Linked DNA regions of Homo sapiens. The protein of the gene in region 2 purifies or fractionates together with the protein of the main gene of each other region. This does not show direct contact. Each region holds a gene or a part of one and is shown on either strand. Other genes may lie near its edges.

Region 1 (7,486 bases), on a different chromosome or scaffold from region 2:
TTTTAAAGCCATTTATTTCTAACCATAACTTCCTATTTAAGCATGTCAATCAAACTTTCATCATTGCTTCACCATGAAGGCAGGCATGAATCACTTTTTCCTAACCCTTTCCATTCTTCTATATTCTGATTCTGGCTGAAGCAACCTGCTGATAGCCAACATGAACAGGTGATTTTTTGTTTGTTAAAAAAAAAGGCTTTATGAAAGGTTTACAATTTAGCAATCATCAGCTTGCCTTCTGACAGCTTCATCTGTTACTATTCTAAAACAACTTGGCTTTGTAGATGGAATTTCATTAATTTCCTCAAAGAGATGAACCTACTAATTTTAGTTCAGTGAAATATGTTCTTCCCAAATTGACAGCTTTTAAGTTTAAAAATGCATCGGAATCCTATGTACAACGTATCATAAGTGGACTGTCAGATTACTATCCAACAAAATATCCTGGGGATTTAAGATTTTGTTTTCAGGAAAAAAAACTTTTAAGCAACACAGAAACATACTGTATAATAGTTTTATTTTTCTCATTTTACTATTTTTACATTTTATGCACAAATATTTATCTGCGTAAAAATAGAAAATAACTGTTTTATGTAAAATTACAAAAAAAATTAAAACCACAAAGAAATACATAATTGTTATTATGACAGTATAAGTGTCGTTGTCGTTATTTAAAGAGTAAAAATGTATGCAAAAGTCCTCCTCCCATTTACAAAAGATTGAGAATTTTGTTTTTCCTGGCAGCAAGTGAAATATTGAAGTATCAATATTTTTACACCCTTTAGATCTGAAGACATTAAGTTAGTCACAGATTTGTTTTGCAATTATGAATTTTAAAACATTTTTGTGCTATTTCAAGGATACACTAGTTCTTTCTTAAAGGCAGTAGCATAAAATGAATATGGAAAACAGCAGACCTCACAAAAATATTTGGTGGTACAATTCTTTTTGTATCATACTTGAATATCACCATTAATCAGGGGAGAAAACAACTAAACAATTTTTCCTAATAACATAGACTGATACAAAAATAACTGTGATCAGTCAATTTATCTGAAGATCAACCACACATAGCAATTCTGCCTCATTTGTTTTTCTGATGCCAACACAAATATTTAGACTTTAGGCTAGCAAGATATGTATGAAAGTTGGCTCAATAAAAACTTCACATGGAAAACAAATTTTAAAACAAAAATGAACATTTCTTTTACTTAAATTCTTGTACTTCTAAGGTACAAATGATGACCAATAATTTTATCTTTCTTCCTTTGAATATACTGTAAATTCTATGAAAAATTCATTTATAAAAACAAAGCAAAGAATAGCATAAATTTTATTTTCTTTCACAATGTTATATTTTAATAGAAGAAAAAAACTACCTTTCTGATAACTGTAACCTAAGTAAAACAAATATTTTACATATAATTTGAGGCAAAGTAATGAGTTTCTTGAATCAACTGGAGAAATTAGTCACATTACCTATGTCATGCATAAATGATGGTAAGAAGAAAAAAAAAGCATCTGATCATGTATGAGAACTGTCTCTGTTCAAATTATGAGAAATAAAATGAAAATTGCTAAAGGGAGAAAATGAATAAAATATGATTTAAAAAAAAACCATATGGGAATTGCATAGATGAGAAAAAAATTTTCATTCTAGGGATCTAAAAGTAATGTTTTTAGCTTTAAAAACATACACACACATATATAATTGAGACATGTCTATCATCTTGGCTAAAATTTTAATATATGTCTCCCCAAAAGCATTTTAAATATGAAAGCCAAGATTCTTAAGCTCTTGATGATATACCAGAAGGGTATACTTTATTATTTTTTTAAAACTACAAGCAACTTGTCAACTCTCTAGGCCGTAAGAGGATGGTGCAAAACCTTTCTTGCTGTCTATTTGTTACCTGACGTTAGAGCTTCTGTTTATTATTTCATATTGTTATTTTACTCAGATATTCTTAAAACCACAGTGCCCAAATTGTACTAATAATCTGTCCATATATTCTCTTTCAAAAAAGTAAAAATGGAAATACAAATCTTACTCTGCTCAGATATCAACTGCAGGAAGAGCTTAATAATATGAATGAATTGAGAACATGTTTTAGTAAAATTATGCATTAAGATTACCAGAGAAAGAGATCAAAGATCCCTCCCTCTCTCTCTTCTCTTCCTTGTCCTTAAGATCCCTGCCTCTTAGGATTCATTCCAAACCACTACCAGAATTGCTAACAATGCCATCTTGCCTGTATTATCATGCCTTTTTCTCCTAGTTAAGTCAAAAGCATTAACTGAGCTCTTAAGAAGCTTTTTAAGAGGACAGATTTAAAGAAAACAATGAAGGAGAAGGTGCATAAATATTTGAGAATCAACTTTCTCAAATCTGTAAGAGGATTAATAGCTATCTGCCAGTCTCATGTAATAATTCGTGCTTAATACCTTAAACAACAAAGAGAGAAAAGAAAGAAAAAGACATTTCTAGCCATTTTTGTTTAGTGTTCGCTTATGTAAGGAATGTCATATATGCAGGAATTAGTTAATTTGAATCTTAAAATGAGTTGTTTAATAATTTTTCTTCTGTATATCTTTATGCCTTCATATGTTTATAAAATGATCAACTGAATATGTATACAGCTATATGAATACACATATATAATATGGAAAAGGAAAACAAGTGGAAAAGTATTGTCTTAAAGAGAAGACTGCCTATAACAAAGGTCGTATTTTCCTTTTAAAACTATTTGCAAGTAATTTACTAATGCCTTGAAAGGTAAAGTACTACTGACTGATTTAAAGTCTTCATTTTATCAGAAACAAAGGAATATAAGCTGCTTTGCATAATAAACTGGCACTACAGGGTAATTTTTTAAAAAAGGAAGCCATAACAAACCAAAACAAACCTTTATTTTTGGGTTGAGGTATACCTTTTCAGTTTTTTAAATCTCTGACAGGAAAAACAGAGATCATTTTATAATTTTTATAACAGCTGGTTTATTAGAATTAAATGCCTCTCTCAAAATAATTTAAATTCTTGGTCTGACATGAGTAATCTATACAGAAAATCCTTAAAATTGGCTTGAGTTAATAAGCCAGATTTAAACCTGGATCTCCTCCTTCAGCACTGCTCTTTTGCCAGTCAACTTCTTACTGTCCTTTGCTTGCAAATATATAAATAACCTGATACTCTTAGTTTAGTAATTTATTAATATAAATTTATTCGGTATGAACATTTTAGCTCTGCTTGATTAGATGAAACAGGCACACATGCTTTAGCTGAGAAATTCCATTTTCTGGTTCTATGTAAAGCAACATCTAAAGCAGCAGAGAGGGGAAACAGTTATATTTTCAAAAATAGTTAAGCCAGACTGTTTCCTAGAGATACTTCATTTATTTTTCATTTTCAGATACTACTGGCTATTTTTGGTAGGGCTACACATTAATACTGACCAGTTTAGCCTTCCTGACTGTTAAACTATTCCACAATGAACCTGCCTTCACACTGCAGACATTGTGGAGATCCTTTAACATACACATATTCTAAAATATATGCTCAAAGTAAAAAGATCCAAATTCACAAGAGTATGAAATATTTATAAAAAAATCATGCATCAGACTGTACAGCCTAGAAATAAAAGAAGATTCAAATTCAGTAATAAAGGTAAGAGCTATACTTGCTCTAAACATTTTAAGAAAGACTTTGGAGTCTCAGAATGTCCTGGGGCTCAATTATCCTTTTCCGTTTGCAGAGAAGCAGTAGCCAGAGCTACTGCTGTGACTGGCTGGGCAATTCCATGGAGCTGCATCTTTGCAAGTTTCTTCTGTTCACATTCTGTGACCAAACGGTTCAACTCCGCTGCACTGTATCCAATAAGAGTCTTCAAGTCACAGACAAACTTGTACACAAATCTCTTGCCTTGAACTTTACAAATCATGTCCCCATCGTAATAATATCTTCAAAAAGAGAAAAAAAAATTAGAGACTTCAGAAAAAATGAGACTTCTTACAATAATTTACAGACTATTCCATAAGCAGAAGCCTAGTAGAGTACTGCATCCGCCACAATAGCAATTAATATTGAAGCTATGTAGAATATTTAATGCTACTATCAAATGAAACATCCCAACATTATTTACTAAAATTTCAATGCTCACTACTCCAAAACTCTATACATTAAACTTTCAAAACATATTTTCAACAATTAGAATAAAACATTGATTTAAAAATAATTATTAAACAAAACAAAAAACCTTGAGAGCAGTAGAAGAGCCTAAGAACAAGAGCTTTGGAGTCAGAAAGCCAAGATTCAAAACCTAACATTTTTGAGACCACAGGAGTCATATTTTCTCAAAGCTTTTATTCCTCATCTATAAAGTGAGGTTAACAGTGCTTATACCCTCATATCATTGTTGAGGATTAAAGGGATAATCTTTGTAAAGTGCTTAGTATACAATGACTGGCACACAGCCCTCTACAAAATATAAGCTATGTTAATAAAAATCGATAATATAAAAAAAATTAATACATATATTCCACTTCTTTTCTGTCTTGTAAAGAATCCTATATGATGAAGTCATGTCTTCATCTTTATTATTTCACTATGTAAACGCTTTCCAAATTTCAGATAAATTATCCAAGCCCAATAGGGAGCTTTAAGTCTAAGGAAAAGGTCTAAAAGAAACAGAGGATACAGAAAAACAGGTAAAGGACATTGCAAAGAGACAATGTTTCTAAACGTACACAAGCAGAGTTCCGGCAATCATTCTAGAAATCTAGTTTACTGCTGCATTCTATAGAGATGCAAATGGAGCTGGATTTATGTTTCCTTTGGAAAACAGACTTTATTTAAACACACACTATGTATTGCTAATTCCAACAACAGGAAAAAGAGGCAAGTCAAGCTCTTTCCACGACTGGCAGATTGCAAAGCCCTTATTTTAAAATTGCACTGCCCACTGACAAAGGGCTATTATAAAAGAAACAACTATTTGCAAAAGTACCAGATATAAACTATCACATTTAGCAGGATAAAAGTCACTTGGCTTAATCAAGAGTCTATTAATGAAAGGACTGACCTATATACAGGAAATTGTCATCTTTCCCTAATTCCAGAATAGCAAAAGAAAAATAGTTATGTTTGATTTCCCAGTAAGAGATATAACACATTGGGCAGTCTTGTAGTTTCCATTTATGTCAATTACATTAGTACAGAATTTGGATTTCAGCTCATAAACCAACAATTCCTTGCCATCCAGTTAAAAATGCTATAGGCATATCAATTGCTTTAAAAAATTTCTACATTAATATGTAAGACTATACGTGGGGAAAAAAAGGAAAATGGAAAAGGAAAGAGGTTTTATAATTCTAGGAGGAAAATGGAGTTGGCATAATCATATTTCTTGGTAAGAGGTGATAAAAAAGAATATACACACATAAATTTGAATTTTACTGAATACTTCTTTTGATCTAGTAGATGCATCACACAACTGTATATAGTAGCATTTATTCCACTTGTTGCCTCCCTAAAATGAAAGATACACAATACCTGTATTTCATGGATATGATTTCTTTTCTTCCCTCTTTTTTTTTAAACTTGTATTTTTTTAAACTTTTTAATTGCAAATATATCACACAAACAAAAGGACACAGAAGTGAACAGTTCAGTGATTTATTACAAAGTGAACATTCACTCACCTGTTAAGTATCACTCAGGTCAAGAAACAGAACACTGCCAGCATCTAGAATCCCCTTTATGTCCCCTCCCAATCACTCCCCAAATCCTGGCTCTAAAAGGTAAACACAAGCCTGTATCATGATAGTAATTTGACTGCTTTTTCTTTATATTTTTATCACCCAAACATGCATCCCTAAATACTGAAATTTAATTTTCCTGTTTTTTGAACTTTACTAAATAAATGTAATCATACAGAATTTGGTCTTTTGGGTCTGGATTCTGTCACTGAACATTATGTTTGTGAGGTTCACTGGTCATTGTTTGTAGCAGGAGCTTAGTTTTCAAGAATGCAAGGTATTCTTGTATGAATATACCATAAATGATTCATTCACTCTACTGTTGATAGATATCTGGTTGTTTCTGGGGTTTGGATGTTATAAATAATCTGCTATGAACATGTGTATGGGCATAGAAGTACATCTCTGTTTGATGTGTATGAAACAGTTGCTTAGGGGAGCAACTGTTACAATTTACATTCCTATCAAAAGGGTAGAAGCATTCCCATTGCTCCATATCCTCAACAGAGCTTAGTTCTGGCAATCTTTTAAATTGTAGCCACTCTAGGGGGTGAGTTGTACCATTTAATTATGGTTTTCAATTGCATTACTCTGAATACTAATGAGGCCGTACACCTTTGCATATATTCATTGGCCATTTGGATAATCTCTAGCCTGAGGTGTCTATTCAAGTCTCTTGCCCATTAAAAAATTGATTTGTAAGAATTGGTTAGATATTCTAGATACTTCTGTCCGACATGTGTGGCTCTCTTAATAAGGCTTTCAACGAACAGAAATTCCTAATTTAAATATAGTCCAGTTTATTGATCTTTCCCTTTAGAATTAGTCCTTTTGATTCTGTTTAAATGTCTCCCTACCACCAGAAGTTATGAAAGTATTTCTAGATCCTTTTCTATTTTACTTTTTACATGTAGAGCTACAAGCTACATGGAATTGATTTTTGGTACGGCATAAGCAAGAGGTCAACTTTTACTTTTCCCCAGAGATGGAGAGTAAATTATCCCAGCACTGATTATTGAAAAGCAGGTCGTTTCCTCATATGTTTTCTCCCCACTGCCATTTCTTTAAATCAAATGCTTACATATTCCTGGTTCTATTTTGGCTCCCTATTCTACTGTATGGCCTATTTGTCTTGAGAAAATAGCATAACTGTCTTATTACTGTAACTTTAGAGTCAGTCTCAATATCCTGTGGGACAAGTCTTTCCACTTTGCTAATCTTCAGGTGTCCTGACTACCATGGTACTTTATAGTCCCATGTAAATTTTACAATTATCTTCTCAAGTTCTATGAAAAACTTAGTTTGATTTTTCAAATTAAACTAAGTTGCTGCACTGAAACTTAGATCAATCTGGGGGGGAACTGACATCTTAATTATTAACTCTAACAATTTACCTGTAATTTTGAGGGGACTTGTATGTATACAATCTGTATCAACTCTCAAAAATGGCAGCTTTAATTATGATTATAAACGAAGAATCTTTAGACAGTTGGCAATGTGTTTGAGACTGAATGGTAAAGGATAAGCATTTTGAAAACTAAACATTTTAGTTACTCATGAACTCTGAGAAAAAAAGGGTCATTCAGGAAAAGAAAAATAATCACAGCCAACTATGTAATAATAGTTACATGGCCGTAATACTGTAACAATGAATACTCGCTGAACCAAAATTTCCATATAATTATATTGGGATACTGAGATGAAGGGATGGAAAGGGGAAGGGAGAGTGTGT
Region 2 (8,359 bases):
TGCTTTTGCTGTAACTGCATGTAATTCAAGGAGAGTGTTGGTTGGGCTGAAGTGGGTGAAGGAGAGTGAGAAGCAAGTGGCAGTCTTATCCTTTTTCCATCCCCTACTCCATTTTAAGGCATCCCCCAAATTTCTAGATCATCACTAGAGAAACATACCTAGATCCACCAGTGTTTCCGCAAGCACTCCAGTCTCTGGAAAAAAATACAGTGTTTACAGATTCCTTGCTACTCTACATAGGTCTTTATATACAAAGCTTTTATGTTTCAACAAGAAGAACCCTCATTTTTTAATCTAGGGAAGTTCCTACATCATTTGATCATTTTTCTTTCCCTTCTTTCCATCCCTCATTCTCCTTATGATTCCTCTTCTACCTCTAAGACCTGAGGAAAAAAAAAAAAAAACTTCCTCCTTGAAAGCCCCTTCCTCCCTTACGTATTAACCCATGTAAATGGGCATGACAGAGGAGGGGAATACAGTTCTTCAGACACAACTGGACTCTGAATCTTAATTTGATTCCCCCAGTACCCCTACCACCATTATATACCACCAAAGAGGGTGAATAACAGCAATAAGCTCTAATGTTGATTTAATACACCGATAGTATATTTTGATGTCAGACAGGAAAATCCTAACCTATAGTACACCTAAGTATTTTTAAGCTAATTAGTCCAAATAGGAGAGCTGCTGAAAGAAAATATCATCCTCATCCTAAATGAAGATCAACTTAACCACTGAAATATGAAGACTGATAGCAGTAATGCTTGCTGTTGTAAACTGCAGTCAATATTCCTGTTCATGCTGGAGAATATGGAGAGGTGACTACATATATTATTGATGGAGCTGGGCTATGATGTGAGATAGTAGTGAAAATAACTTGCAAATTGAAATCAAATATAATATTCTGGCTTTCCACAAGAAAAGCCCAACTACCAATTTTCTCTTACTCTTAAAACATTCTGACTGGAGTAGGGTTTCAGCTATGTGCCTTATTTTCAGGCTTAATTAGATATTTAAGTATTTTTCCTTGCATTCAGCTAGAATTATAGTAGTTGAACACCAGAAAAAAAACTGTTTAAATATTAGAAATAAAGCCTTAGAGAACTCACTAGGTTAAATCTAGCAGTGCAAATGACCAGACTGCAAGGTGAGTTGTCAGTTCTTTAGAAGCAATCTGAATCATCAATGTAATCAGAAAGCTCTATATTGATCATTTATAACAAAATAAGTCAAATGGTTAAAACTGCCGGCACTGATACAAGTTCCTAATCATTTCCAAACTTGAGTATCACTCACTACGATCTAACTTCTTCTATTCCCAAATAACCCAGACCTGCTGGAGGATATGGCTTTGTTTTCATATTCAAGCTTTAGGAATTTATTTATAGAACATAATATATACAGGCTTCTACATATAAAGAGAAAAAATCATTTTATTATACCACTTACCTTTACTTTACAAAAGATCAGTGTAATCCATCACCCTTACTAGAGACATAACTCAGTTCTTTCTTTATCAAAAATGGGTCAGTGGTGTCCTCCTTGGAAACAAAGGATATCAAACCACTGTAGGATTACAAATAATCTCAAGCTTTTTCTTTATAGTTCCTGAATCAAATACTTTGGCTATTTTTAGTATTTAAATAAATAGCATCAAAAAGCTTTCAGTTTTATATGAAAAGTTTTATGAGCCTTTCTGTGTAATATAGAGGATTCCATTGTCTCATCTAGAGATGTGAAATTTTACAATTATGGGGTGAGTGTTTGGTATTTTACACCTTAAAAGGATAGCTTATACAAACAATTGGTTACTATCACTATAAATTAAATAAAATTTCATTTGATAGATCTATGTTTTCAAAACATAAATATTGTTTCGTATGTGCTTATGCATAAGCCTAATAAAATGGATTGTTCCATTGTATTACTTCTTTAGCCAGGTTTACTCAGGAGATCAGAACACTGCCAATAAGGAGCATCCTTTCCAGAGGCTATTGTCTTTTTTTTTTTCTACTTTTATTTTAGATTCAGAGGTACATGTGCAGGCTTGTTACTTGGGTATATTGTGTGATGCCAAAGTTTGGGTTATGAATGATTTAATCACCCAGATACTGAGCAGAATACCCAGTGGTTAGTTTTTCAACCCTTCCCCCACCCACCCACTTCCCCCTCTAGTAGTTCCCAGTGTCTATTGTTGTCATCTTTATGACCATGAGTATCCAATGTTTAGCTCCCATTTATAAGTGAGCACATGTGGTATTTGGTTTTCTGTTCCTGCATTAATTCACCTAGGATAATGGCCTCCAACTGCATCCATGTTCCTGGAAATGACATGATTTCATTCTTTTTTATTCCTGTGTAGTATTTCATGCTGTATATATACCACATTTCCTTTATCCAATCCACTATTGATGGGCACCTAAGTTGATTCCATGTCTTTGCTATTGTGAACAGTGCTGTGATGAACATATGAGTGCATGTGTCTTTTCAATAGGATGATTTGTTTTCTTTTGCATATACACCTAGTAATGGGATTGCTGGATTAATGGTAGTTCTGTTTTAAGTTACTTGAGAAATCTATAAACTGTTTTCCACAGTAGCTGAATTTACATTCCCACCACAAGTGTATAAGTGTATAAGCATTTCCTTTTCTCCATAGCCTTCTTAACATCTGTTGTTTTTTGACTTTTTAAGAATAGCCATTCTGACAGGTGTGAGATGTTATCTCATTACAGTTTTGATTTGAATTTCTCTGATGATTAGTGATGTGGAACATTTTCTCATATGTTTTTTCATATGTTTGTTGGCCACTTGTATGTCTTCTTCTGAAAAGTGTCTGTTCATGTCTTTTGTCTATTTTTTTTTTTTTTTTTTTTTTTTTTTTTTTTTTTTTTTGAGACGGAGTCTCGCTCTGTCGCCCAGGCTGGAGTGCAGTGGCGGGATCTCGGCTCACTGCAAGCTCCGTCTCCCGGGTTCACGCCATTCTCCTGCCTCAGCCTCCCAAGTAGCTGGGACTACAGGCGCCCGCCACTACGCCCGGCTAATTTTTTGTATTTTTAGTAGAGACGGGGTTTCACCGTTTTAGCCGGGATGGTCTCGATCTCCTGACCTCGTGATCCGCCCGCCTCAGCCTCCCAAAGTGCTGGGATTACAGGTGTGAGCCACCGCGCCCGGCCACATTATTGATATATAGAAATGATACTGAATTTATATCCTGAAACTTTACTGAAGTCATTTATCAGTTCCAGGAGCCTTTTGGTGGAGCCTTTCGGGTTTTCTGGATATGGAATCATATCATCTGAAAAAGAAATAATTTGACTTCTTATTTTCCTATTTGAATGACAGGGTATGTCTTGATGTGGGATCTGGCAACTAAGTGTCTGAAAAGCTCAGTTTTGCTATGAGAAAAAAAACCATTCTCTGTCAAAAGGAATCAAGGCTTAATAAAAGATTTCATAGTATACACTGAAGGATGAGGAAGCTTATAAAGAAAATAGGCATCAAGGTTGGTGGTTGAAATAATACAGAGAAGTAAAATCAAGTGCAAGTTCAGATTTGGTGATTTGGAGTCTCAACTTTGAAGAGACAATGTGTGTTCTATATTATGTAGCATAATTCAGGGATTTCTTTACCCTTTAGTCTCAGGTTTGAAAGAGGAGTTCTGATTCAGAGTCTGGGAGTGTTCCTGAAACCACTAGTGTTTCTACAGGCAATAGAGGAAAAGTCTACCCTCTGGAACAAATTGGTTTTTAGGGAGTCCTTGCTGCCCTTTTCAGGCCTTTAAACACATAGCCAAATCCTCCATCAGCCTTCATGTTTACAAGAACAATTCTCACTTTTTAACTTAGGGAAACACACCACTCAGGACAAGGCAATAATAAACACTACTAAATTATGTGAAAGGGTTATAGAACATAAACTCAAAGGAGGGCTGAAGTTGGTTTGAATGCACAGCTGGATGCTTCATTGTAGCCACATAGGCATGAGTAGGGCAAACTGCTGAAATTTGCTGAGGATCAAATTATGTTCCACAAGATCATGCTCGCAAGAATTACAAGAATATCCAACAAAATCACTAGAGTCTAAGACTTGCTCAAGAATATTCTCTGAGAATAGGCAGCCATAGAATGAGCTAAGTGAAGCTCGACCACAAGACCTCACTGGATTAACGTCCTGATTTTTCCATTGCATAAGTTTACTCTCGGCAGAATTACGGTTGGGGGGAGGTTGGGGTGGCAGGTTGGCAGGGGAGAGTGGATCCACACTCTGATAGATCCTATTTAACTAGTTTTACTTTACTGTGCAGACTACCTCCCACAACAGGTAACCTTGAATGTAGGCAGACATGCTTCCAGAAATGTGAGTGGAGGTAGGGCGGAATAAAGAAAATGCAACTGCAAAACTGAAAATTCATACTAGCACAATGATGTTTAAATGATTTTCAAGTGTTGGAGCTGGTGTGGTGGAAAACAGTTGCCTGACGCTTTGGTTTGAAGGCCAGGGCTTGTCATTTACCATGTCAGGAGAAATTCCTCTCTTTTCGACAATAATCTCTGCACTGCCTACCTCAGGAGGTCCTCGCAATGCCAAAATGCCGCCAGTGTGGGTTGCGCCTCAGCTGAGCACTGATTCTACAGCCTCGCGGTTTGGGCGGGAAGTCCCACCTCCGCAACCCTGACCAGCCCGGCTCCCCACCCCCACCACCCGGAAGTGAACACCACGAGCTAGCGTGTCTACTTCACAGGCCAGGTCGTCAACTCAACTGTCAAGGTGTCCATTGTACCAGCTGGGCCATGGATCCCTCCCGCCTGAAATCTGACTCCACCTGCCAAGAGTCTGAGCCTGCAGGCCTAGATTTCGACTCTGCTGGCCAAGATTATTTCTCTGCAGCCCAATAATTCGACTCTTTCTACCAAGAATTGGACCTGGACTCTCTTAACGAAGATCTTCTTTCCCAGTCCATGCCACATGCCAGGACAGAGACCTCTGTGGGCACATATGAATCCCACTCGACTTCTGAACTGGAGGATCTGACAGAGCCCGAGCAAAGAGAGCTCAAAACCAAACTCACTAAATTGGAGGCTGAAATTGTAACCCTACGCCACGTACTAGCAGCCAAAGAGAGACGCTGTGGGGAACTCAAGAGGAAGTTAGGCCTCACCGCCTTGGTAGGGCTGAGACAGAATCTGTCCAAGAGCTGGCTTGATGTTCAGGTCTCCAACACCTATGTGAAACAGAAGACATCAGCTGCTCTGTCCACCATGGGCACTCTCATCTGCAGGAAGCTTGGAGGCGTGAAGAAGTCGGCCACATTCAGATCTTTTGAAGGTCTGATGGGGACAATCAAGTCCAAAGTCTCAGGGGGCAAAAGAGCTTGGCCCTGACTGTCTTTCTTCTGCGGAGGGTGGGGTTGATCTGCTCTCAGTTTTGGGGTGTGGGGAAGACCCACTCCAGATTCCGGGGAGTGGGAATGAGCCACTCCCAGTTCTGGAGAGTGAGGATGACCATCTCCACTTTCTGGAACCAGAATGAGCCCCCTTGGTAACCTTGCCTGGTACTAAACCAGTGCAAGGACCCCCTTCCCTTATTACATTTGCAACTCTGCCCAACAAAAACAAGCAAGCAAACCACAATGGTAAAGTGGTTAATTCAGGAAATTGACAGAATCCAGTTTTGAGAAAAGAACACAGATATTTGCTGCTTTTAAGATAGAGAACCCAAAGTTTTGTACCTGGTTATTTTTCACTTAAGTTTGTAGACGAAATGTGCCATTATATTAGCTTTCCTGAGACTGTATCTAATGGGCAAGTCAGTGGCTCCAGAGGGGTCTTAGGCCAAAGCCCAAACTCTCTTTTGGAAAACTAGCTTATTAGAAAGCCAAAGTAGAGTTCTGTTTAAGCTTGAAAGAGGTATGAAGTAATCTGTAGTGTTTTTTTGGTTTGTTTGTTTGTTTTCCCTTCCCCATTTCCTTCCTTCCCTCAGTCTCAAAGTCACCTTGAAAGCTTCACCTGGCCTACAACTTTTATTTTAAAAAGATGATCAAGAAAACTTCATCTTCTCTGAGACTCAGAAAAAGAGGGGAAAATAGTGGTAGTGCACTAATTGTTACATTACTAATATAGCTTTTGTAAAACTCGTTTGTTTTCAAAGGTCTGGACTAAGCAAAACAACAGTGTCAGTTTAGGAAATTATTACTACTTTGAACACAAACTGAAATTGCAACTTTGCCTTGTGCTTTGTTTATAATTTCTTTATATATCAAAATGAGTGTTTTAAAGTTTAACCCTTGAAGCAGCATGTCTTTGCCATAGCAGCACTTCACTTAAAAGGAAGAAATTGCCTCTCTGGCAGCAATTCCTAGTTAGTTACCACCTCCAGCTGAGGGGCTGGAGGAAAACAGGTATAGCCAAATTCAAGAAAGATAAACCCCTGTCTCAAGGAACATTTTAAAAAGAACGTCTGTCCCCTGTGATGCTGGCTGTTATGCCTTTGAATGGACCTAACTATACATCTTTGCTCTTAACTCCAAGTCTGCCCTTCTTTTTAGGAAACCCTAAAGGAGAAGGAAGCAGAATATAACCCTCTGGAGAGCTCAAGACAGTAGGAACCTGGACGGTGCTTGTTTGAATTTTCTGATATCTGATTTTCACACGAATATACTTTTTGTTTGTTTTCCTTTTCCATTTTCAAAATGCCAAGATCTGGGAGCCTCTTTCACTCCTCTAGACACACTGCCTGAGATAGAAGTTTGCATCTTATTGGCTGTGGGCAGAGACTAGGACCCTTATGGGTACATTTCAGTAATCTCTCACTGCCTAAAATGGTAATCCCTCCAGCCTAAGAGGATGATTCTGTTTTGTTGACTCTTGAATGCTCCCCCAACATTCCTTTGGTTTTCCTATAAGCAAAACCAAATACCACTATAAATACAAAAGCATCTGGTAAACTGTAAAGTTACTCATGTATCCCAACCCTCCACAGATTTCTGAAGACAAAGTTTTGCTTGGATTAAAACAAGATGTTTTACTATTTTGCATGTTCGATTTTTAATTTGTTGTGTTTATCAACCAAAATGGCTTTGTATGCTGGAGAACAAGAGGTGAGCCTGCAGCATACAAGAAATGAAAGTAGTCCAACAGGCAAAGGCTTTGACATATTTCAGGAAGGCTTGTGTTAGGGACAATCTCAGACTATTATCATGGGCCAAACCTGAGAGATGTTATATTTTATTTAATAATTTCTACAACAGTAGTAAGTTTCCCCAATAAATTCTCAACTCCGTAAAAGTAGTAAAGTACATATTTATTTTTGCTGATCATTGTTTTCCCATTTCTGGCTTAGGATTGATCTTCAATAAATACACGTTAAATCAAGGAAGGAATTAACATCATATACTTCAGACATCAAATATGGAATCCAAGAGACTATCAACAACATGAACTTGTTCACAAGTTCCTTCTGCTTTTAAACAAAAATATCGTGTTTATTCAAAGCCAATCTGAGACCCTACTCTGTATCAAGAACTGTCCCAGGTTCTGAAAGCATAGAATTAGACATCGTATGTGCCCTCTAGAAACACTTAGACTTTCAAATCATTATAATTCAATGAGTCCTAAAATAGAGCTGTGTGCCAGAGATAAAAGAAGTCCTGAGGAAGGGGTGTTCAACTCTGTCTTGGTAGGTCAGTAAAGACTTTAGAGAGACAGAAAGTCTTAGAGGACTAGGAGAAGTTTGCCAGACAGACAAGAATAGAACATTCCAGACAACATGCAGAGGAACTGAGTCACAAAGGAATGTATAAGAATGGCATATTCTAGGAACTAACACTGTGGCTAGAGAGGAAGGGGAAATGGTGTTACATGAGTGAGGGAGGGGAAATGGTGTTACGTGAGTAAGAAAAAATAAGCAGGGGGCAAAATCATAAGTAGTCTTACATACTACATTAGATATCAATATTTAAGCCTGTAGGAAATGGGAGGCATTGAAGCACTTAAGTAAAAAAGTAACTATCAAATTTTTGTTTTAGATTACTCTGGTCATCAGAGAAATAGATTAAGTATTTAAGAGGTAGAATCTCTCAGACTTAGGAACCAACTGCATGAGGCGGGGCTTGGGGGGATAAATTTGCAAGATAATAAGGATGTAGAATTGAAAAGGCCTGATATTATTGAAGCTGGAGTTGCACATTCATTTTGCTTTGGCTTTTTTGTATCAGTGGTCATGGGCACCAAATAAAATGCTTCCATGAACATTTGGATTCTGGCTCTAAAGTTTCCTCGAGATTTCCTTTTTCCACCAGCTTCTACCCTTCCTATGCATTGGCTTTCTTCATCTTCTTCCCTGTCTACCCACAAAACTT

What was found. Proteins that work in one complex are often made in the same cells at the same time.
Region 1: the proteins of TPD52L3 (region 2) and GABPA purify together in Homo sapiens (co-immunoprecipitation; 2 studies listed by BioGRID and IntAct, with this or other methods). This does not show direct contact.

Annotation. Positions count from the first base shown.
Region 1 is NC_000021.9:25,765,475-25,772,960, reverse strand, and holds the end of GABPA (GA-binding protein alpha chain), read right to left. Parts: intron 3,958-7,486; coding exon 3,729-3,957; 3' UTR 501-3,728; downstream 1-500.
Region 2 is NC_000009.12:6,323,635-6,331,993, forward strand, and holds TPD52L3 (tumor protein D55), read left to right. Parts: upstream 1-4,740; 5' UTR 4,741-4,961; coding exon 4,962-5,328; coding exon of another isoform or gene 5,329-5,384; exon of another isoform or gene 5,385-6,547; coding exon of another isoform or gene 6,548-6,579; exon of another isoform or gene 6,580-7,286; intron 7,287-7,341; coding exon 7,342-7,385; 3' UTR 7,386-8,257; downstream 8,258-8,359.